Linked DNA regions of Homo sapiens. The protein of the gene in region 2 purifies or fractionates together with the protein of the main gene of each other region. This does not show direct contact. Each region holds a gene or a part of one and is shown on either strand. Other genes may lie near its edges.

Region 1 (3,903 bases), on a different chromosome or scaffold from region 2:
ATGCTCACACTTCCAGTCCCGCACTGCTCTGCCTTCTAGATGCTGGTTAACAGCATTGCTGCACAGCTGGCTTCCCAAGCTGGGAATGCAGCCCCCTCTCTCCCACCACACTTGTCATTGTTTTAGTTTAGGTCCTCATCACCTGTCTCACTGTCTCATGTGGTTGTTCATAAAGTCTGTTTCTCTTGGCCAGGCACAGTGGCTTAAGCCTCTAATCCCAGCACTTTGGGAGGCCGAGGCGGGCAGATCACCTGAGGTCAGGAGTTCAAGACCAGCCTGGCCAACATGGCAAAACCCTGTCTCTACTAAAAATACAAAAATTAGCCAGGTGTGGTGGTGTGCGCCTGTAGTCCCAGCTACTCAGGAACACCTGCAGTCCCAGCTACTCAGGAGGCTGAGGCAGGAGAATCGCTTGAACCCAGGAGGTGGAGGTTGCAGTGAGCCGAGATTACGCCACTGCACTCCAGCCTGGGTGACAGAGCAAGACTCTGTCTCAAAAAAAAAAAAAAAAAAAAAAAGTCTGTTTCTCTAGAAAAACACACACACACACAAAACTGAGTAAACAATATATGCACGTAGTAAAAAAATTCAGATTATTTTTGAAATACAACGAAATCTCCTATCGCTACAGGCAACTAGTTGTTTCTTGGGTATTCCTTTAAAGATATCCCATGTACATATAACAAGAAAAAATGGTGTGTATCTCATAAAAGCTTTTGCTGACAAAGACACACAGATAGACACACAACACACAGAGGTTGAAACTTTCAGGGAGAGAGCTGACCACGTGGTCTGGAAGATCACTGTGCCTACTGGGTAGTGCCTAGCCTGGCAGAACCACCTCATTTTGTAATTTCACAATAAGCTCTTGCTATCCCTGGATCCCATCAGCCACGAACTTTCAAAGTGGACCATCTAACTGTGCCCACTGCCTTGATGTCCCTTGCCTCTGGCACGTATCTGGCGAATGGCAACACACTCTTACCACGCAAACATCCTCTCTTCTTTGTGGCCTCCTTGGCTACCAACAGTTATTACAGAACCTCTGCCTCCCCAGAGCACTCTGGTCACCCCTGTTTCCAATTATCTCCCTTTTTCCCCTAATTAAGGTGAAAGAAAAATGCAACATTAAAGGATGTTTTAAAGCAAATCCCAACAACCTCAAGTGATTTTCATTCTGTATCCACCTTCTGTAAATGTTATATAACCACAATCAGAGCACACACACCCTTTTAAGACTGCTTTCTATGTGTGGAAGAGTCTTCTACTCAGACTTCAAGCCCCTTAAAAGTAGAAGAACTAAGTCTTTTTTTTTTTTTTTTTTTTTTTTGAGACAGGGTCTCACTCTGTCACCCAAGCTGGAGTGCAGTGGCCCAATCTCGGCTCCCTGTAGCCTGCACCTCCCAGGCTCAAGTGATCCTCCCACCTCAGCCTCCCAAGTAGCTGAGACTATAGGCATGTACCATCACACCCAGCTAATTTTTAAATATTTTTGTAGAGATGAGGTCTTGCCTTGTTGCCCAGGATGATCTCAAACTCCTGGGCGCAGGCAATCCTCCCGCCTCAGCCTCCTTAAAGTGCTGGGATGACAGGCATGAGTCACCATGAGCGGCCAAGAACTGTCTTAATGGATTGTCTTTGCATCTTGGTACCCAAAATAAAGCCTGAAATACAGGAGGGCTTGGATCCCCATTTGTCAGACCTTACTTGGGAAAACACTGAAGAGGCGAGCAGCATGCCCAGCATCAATACAAGTATAATTTCCCACAAAGAAATGAAGTACGCCACCTGCCATACAGCCATCAGGGAAAGGAACTGGACCTTCATGTTCCAGGAATAGTCCAAGGAGGGGGAAGGGAGAGAACAACTGTAAAGTTCTCATAAAGCCTCACACTCACCCTGGATGAATTATTTAACCTTTCTGGGTCTCAATAAAATTAAAACAAGAGCACCTACTTGATGATCAACTATCTAAGAAAGGTCCTAGGCAGTGGCCGGCCCAGAGCATGCACTTAGTGAACGCTAGTGGCCCTTCTCATCTGGAGGCCAGGGGTCTGCTGTTACACTGAGCAAAAGAGCCAATCGCACAAGCAAAAGAAATGCTGACGCTTGCCAAACCTAGGAATAACCCCACGATGATGGCCTGGCCAAAGACCACACCATTTAAGGGCTCTCGTTTGAGCTTTGCCTACTGGGTAGTGGCTTGTCTGAGAGAACAAGCTCTTCCTATGATTTTACATCAAAGTGCTGCTATCTCTGGATCTGGTCAGTCATAAGTCTAAACTTCCCCAGGAAACATGTTCTAAGTAGAAGCAAAGGTTTCTGTGACCTTCTGAGAACAAATGCCAAGCCTGCTGGTGCAAAGCAAGTGGGAATGAGGCCCTGGGGTTGGAACCATAATGAATTGGAAGGCCAGATGAGGGGACACTGCACTTCCAGGCCAAGTGGCTGGTTTTATCAGAGTCCGAGGGTGCCAGCTAATCTTATCACAATTCTATCATGTAAACAAAACTGTCCCAAACCCTGAGAGGCTCAGCAATTCCAGCAAGGTTTCAAGCATTCTTAGGAATGCTGAGGTAACGCCCAGTACCCTAAACTTTTTGACTCCTAGCATGCTCGTGTTCCCACTGACTTAGAAGGCCACATCTTTTCTTTCTTTCTTTCCCCTGCACCTTTTGTGTTTTTTTGTTTTTTGTTTTTAGAGACGGAGTCTTGCTCTGTTGCCCAGGCTGGAGTGCAGTGGTGCGATCTTGGCTCACTGCAATCTCCACCTCCAAGTTTCAAGCAATTCTCCTGCATCAGCCTCCCAGGTAGCTGGGATTGCAGGTGCCAGCTACCGCACCCAGCTAATTTTTGTATTTTTAGTAGAGACAGGGTTTAACCATGTTGGCCAGGCTGGTCTCCAACTCTTGACCTCAGGTGATCTGCCTGCCTCAGCCTCCCAAAAAGTACTGGGATTACAGGCGTGAGCCACTGTGCCTGTCCAGCTAATTTTTAAACTTTTTGTAGAGATGGGGTCTCACTATGTTGCCCAGGCTGGTCTTTAACTCCTGGGCTCAGGCGATCCTCCCGACTCAGCCTCCCAAATTGTTGGGATTATAGGTGTGAGCCACCACACCTGGCCTGACGAAGTTTTAATAACTGCTTTAAATTTTTAAAAAAATTTATTTTAACTAATTATTTTGATTCTCTTTTAGAATTCTTGTCAGTTGATACCAACATCTGGGTCCTCTTGGGGTTGATCTTCGTTGATTGCCTTTTTTTTTTTTTTTTGAGACAGAGTCTTGCTCTGTCACCCAGGCTGGAGTGCAGTGGTGCGATCTCAGCTCACTGCAAGCTCCGCCTCCCAGGTTCACGCCATTCTCCTGCCTCAGCCTCCCAAGTAGCTGGGACTACAGGCACCCGCCACCACGCCCAGCTAATTTTTTGTATTTTTAGCAGAGACGGGGTTTCACCATGTTAGCCAGGATGGTCTCGATCTGCTGACCTCGTGATCCGCCTGCCTTGGCCTCCCAAAGTGCTGGGATTACCGGCGTGAGCCACTGCGCCGGGCCCGTTCATTGCCTTTTTTTGTAAACACAGATCATATTTTCCTGTTTTGTAAAAATATATTTTAAAATTTTCGTTCTTTTTTTTTTTTTTCTTGAGACAGAGTCTCGCTCTGTTGCCCAGGCTGGAGTGCAATGGTGTAACCTCGGCTCACTGCAACCTCTTCCTCCCAGGTTGAAGCAATTCTCCTGCCTCAGCTTCCTGAGTAGCTGGGATTACAGGTGTGCGCCACCACGTCCAGCTAATTTTAGTATTTTTAGTAGAGATGGGGTTTCACCATGTTGGTCAGGCTGGTCTCGAACTCCTGACCTCGTGATCCACCCACCTCAGCCTCCCAAAGTGCTGGGATTACAG
Region 2 (3,903 bases):
TAAGCAGGCCGGCTTTTTAAAAAAGGAATGTTACATCCAAATTCCTATTTTAAAACTTGGTTATGAAAGCTTAGTTTAGGGCTGGGTACGGTGGCTCACGTCTATAATCCCAGCACTTTGGGAGGCCAAGGTGGGCGGATCATGAGGTCAGGAGATCGAGACCATCCTGGCTAACACAGTGAAACCCTGTCTCTACTAAAAATATAAAAAATTAGCCGGGCCTGGTGGCGGGCACCTGTAGTCCCAGCTACGCGGGAGGCTGAGGCAGGAGAATGGCGTGAACCCGGGAGGCGGAGCTTGCAGTGAGCTGAGATGGCACCACTGCACTCCAGCCCGGGCAACAGAGCGAGACTCCATCTCAAAAAAAAAAGAAAGAAAGAAAGCTTAGTTTATCTTGGTGTTTAAATAAAGAGTTGATTCCATAAAAAGGGATTTTGATTAATCTTAAATACTATGCAAAAGTCTGTTTACCTAAATAAAATCTTTAAGCTTTATCATTTATTTTAATGCTTTCTTGTTATCTCTCTCAGGGCCTAGAGTCTTAGAAATGTACAGAATATGTGGCTCTGAATTAGCAAGACACACAAGAGGTCATCTGTGAGGCCAAAGAAGGGGGTTCAGGCCTACCATCCTTGCCACACTGCCCATTCGGCAGGGCTAGAGAGGCCAAACCTGGCTGAAGAGAGGATTAAGGAAGTAAGATGTGAGTAGACTTTAACTTCTCCCTCAGGGAAGGTCCCTGTGGCAACAACCGAACATTCACCCTGTTTCCATGGTGCTAATCCTCTTTTCAGGGACTACAGAGCCACTCCTACTGCCATTCTCTCAAGAGCTACACTTTTTTGTCTAACATTATATCCTCCTTCAGCTCTCTAATAATATGTTTTTCACAGACAGTGGCATCAGTTACAATCCCTTTTTTTTAGTTTATTTTTTTAGAGACAGGGTCTGTGTTACACAGGCTGGAGTACCGTGACATAATCACAGCTCACTGCAGCCTCCAACTCCTGGGCTCAAGCAGTCCTCCCGCCTCAGCCTCCCAAGTAGCTGGGACTACACCCCTACACTTGGCTAGTTTTTTATTTTTTTGTAGAGACTGTGATGCCCAGGCTGGCCTCAAGCAATCCTCCCACCTTGACCTCCCAAAGTACTGGGATTATAGGTGTGAGCCACCACACCCAGCCTAGGTCTTGCTGTCTCTCTCACTGTCCTCCAACAGGGCAACTCTTTTTCCAGTCTAGCCAGATCATCCACCCTGAGTCCTCTCCAGTAGGAAACACCATCACTCTCCTTAAAGCTCAACTTCAGTCTCAGGAGTTTTAGGAAGCCCTCCTATTAGCACTCTCCTCCTCTGCATTGACATCAGCCACATGTGTCCCGGCCACACCTCATGGCATCACTTGTATAACAGATGGCATTTTCTCCTGAGTTATTTCATGTATGTTTTATATTCCCAGTTACAGTAAAAAATCATAGCCAGACTGTACCCAGAATCCTCAAACAACATTTCTTTTTTAACTGGGCTCCATTTTCAACATGAAAACAAATAATTAGGGAATATTTCAACAACCAAAACCGTCAACTTCCTGGAGAGAGACTGAACTTGATCATGTTCATCATCACCGGTTTGATCCTCCAGGCCTGTCCGTAACCACCAATATCTGGAAGGAATACTCAGGGCTATACAAATGACTCAGGCAAATTCTCAAATCTCTACTGGCTTACGAGGAGAAAGCTTCATTTTAGATTTTATCAAAGATTGGAATAAGAGGTTTTTCAGATTAAATCCTCAGATATCCTAAAACTCAAGTCAAAATTTTAATTTCTCACAGAACTTGTTTGTAAAGATTGGCTTAGATCACATATTTCCTGCAAGCAGGACTGCCAGTTGCCCTCTCTCTGCATACTCAACTTTACAGAAGGGATCAGACAAGTGAGGCAGGACCCAACATCATGCAGATCTTGCACCTGATAAATACTAAAAGTAAGGCTCATCCATCCTGAGGGGAGAATGGAGGTGGGGAGAGGCTGAAAAGAAGAGAAGCAAAGAGTACAGCGGTCCCTGTAAACTCAGACTGGGGGGTTCAGAAAGCAGCTCGTCTGGGGGTGCTCGACTGCATGCCAATGCACAGGGGGCCAATGAAGGAGCCCTACCATCCAACTCCTTCTCAATGGAGTCCATCCTGTGCGTAACTTCATCCTGAAGAGATTCCACATGGGTCAGCAGGTTAAACTGCCACTGGTGCTGGGAGCTCAGCAGCCCCTCTCCACCTCTGTCCAGCAGCTTCCGAGCAGGGGCTTCTTCTGGTAGGGCCTTTTTGGAGACATATTCCTTCACCTGGGGATGCAATGGCATGGAAATTACTGAATGGAGATAGCCCCTGGCCCATTTTTCAACCAGCCAGCATTTCCAGCCACCTGAAATACTAGCTGCAGTTTCAATACTCCAAATCCCTACCTCCCTTTCCTATTTCCCACTTAGGAACTGGGCAGGAGCTTGCCCACTGTACCAATTCCAACTACCTCAGGGTAGCACTCTAGCTCAGGGGACCCACAGCTGCTTCCTACTGACTGGGCCAATGTCCTAGCCTAAAGTAAGCCTCACAGAATGGCTTCCAGAGCCCTGAGAGGTGATTAGAGCAGGGCTAGTGCAGACAAGGGTTAGTACACGGGAGTCACACCAACGCGTTTCAAGTCTCAGCTCCATCTCCTGCGAATGTGCGAGTCTGGATGGACTACTTCATGTCTCTGAGCCTCTGCTTTCTCGGTGGGAGGATGGGGGTACTAAAACCTATTTGGAAGGTTCATGAGGATGAAATAGGGTAAGGCACATAAAAGCAAGGCCAGCTTACAGTCAGCTTACCATCAATGGAAAAGACTGTTAGCCCTGGTTGCTTTGCTGAGGCCCAGTATTTCCTGGCTTTGTTTTATGTGCCAGATACCTCTAGGAAACCTGCCTGATCCACAGGACCACAAACCTTTTCTAGGATTTGGTAACTCAACCTTTCATTCATCCATTTGAAATGAAATAGATTCTAGCCAATATTTATTTAGTACTTACTATGTGCAAAACTGAGGGATTTTACTGAGGGATTTTCACAAATATGTTCCACAGTAACTGAGGGGGCTTCACTGGCCCCATTCTACAGGCGAGAAAACAGGTCTGATCAGGAAAGTGAAGTAACCCGCTCAGAATCACACAGTAAGGGGCTGAGCTCAGAATTGAAACTGCGTCTGTCTCAAAAGACTGTGTTCTTACCACCTTGCCCAACACCGTTTAGACATAGTCAAGGGCACAAGGATGCATGAGATACAATCCCCTCCCTTGAGGGGCTTGTAATCTAGGATCCCCTTGGCACCATGCAGCAATGTATTTAACACTGGTGACACCAACCTGCAGGAGAAAGTCTGGGAAGTAAGGATGATGAGACAGAGAAACTCTCAAATCATACAAAGCCTCACTGACAACTGAGGACAGGGCACAATGAGCCTAGTGAGCAGTTAGAGATGAAAACACCGGCAACGAGGTGATACAAGGGGGTTCTAGAAGAGAATGACTTGAATAACAAAAAACCAAAAGTGGCTCTTGGGAAAACTGATGAAACCAGCAATATTTTGACAAAGTGTACCATTTTTACCACAGGGCTTCAAAGTTAAAAGTCAAAATAAAGCTATCATACAACTGGATTGAAAAAATTCTGCCTAACAAAACATTTGACTCATTGTTTGCTCATGCTAAGAATTAACATCTAGGTGCAATTATAATGCAAACTGCCTTAAAGAAAAGATGAGTTTTGCTAATCCATATCTCCTTGCTACTTCCCACCTCTCCCTCCCTCTGCACCCGCGCCCCCCACCCCACGTGCCACACTTGACTATGCCATTTTGTGGGTGCTTCCTGGA

The links.
Region 1: the proteins of PHF20 (region 2) and SGF29 purify together in Homo sapiens (affinity purification with mass spectrometry, with the first as the bait; one large-scale study listed by BioGRID). This does not show direct contact.

The regions. Positions count from the first base shown.
Region 1 is NC_000016.10:28,560,331-28,564,233, reverse strand, and holds part of SGF29 (SAGA-associated factor 29), read right to left. Parts: intron 1-3,903. UniProt on the Homo sapiens protein: Chromatin reader component of some histone acetyltransferase (HAT) SAGA-type complexes like the TFTC-HAT, ATAC or STAGA complexes.
Region 2 is NC_000020.11:35,939,299-35,943,201, reverse strand, and holds part of PHF20 (PHD finger protein 20), read right to left. Parts: intron 2,339-3,903; coding exon 2,155-2,338; intron 1-2,154. UniProt on the Homo sapiens protein: Methyllysine-binding protein, component of the MOF histone acetyltransferase protein complex.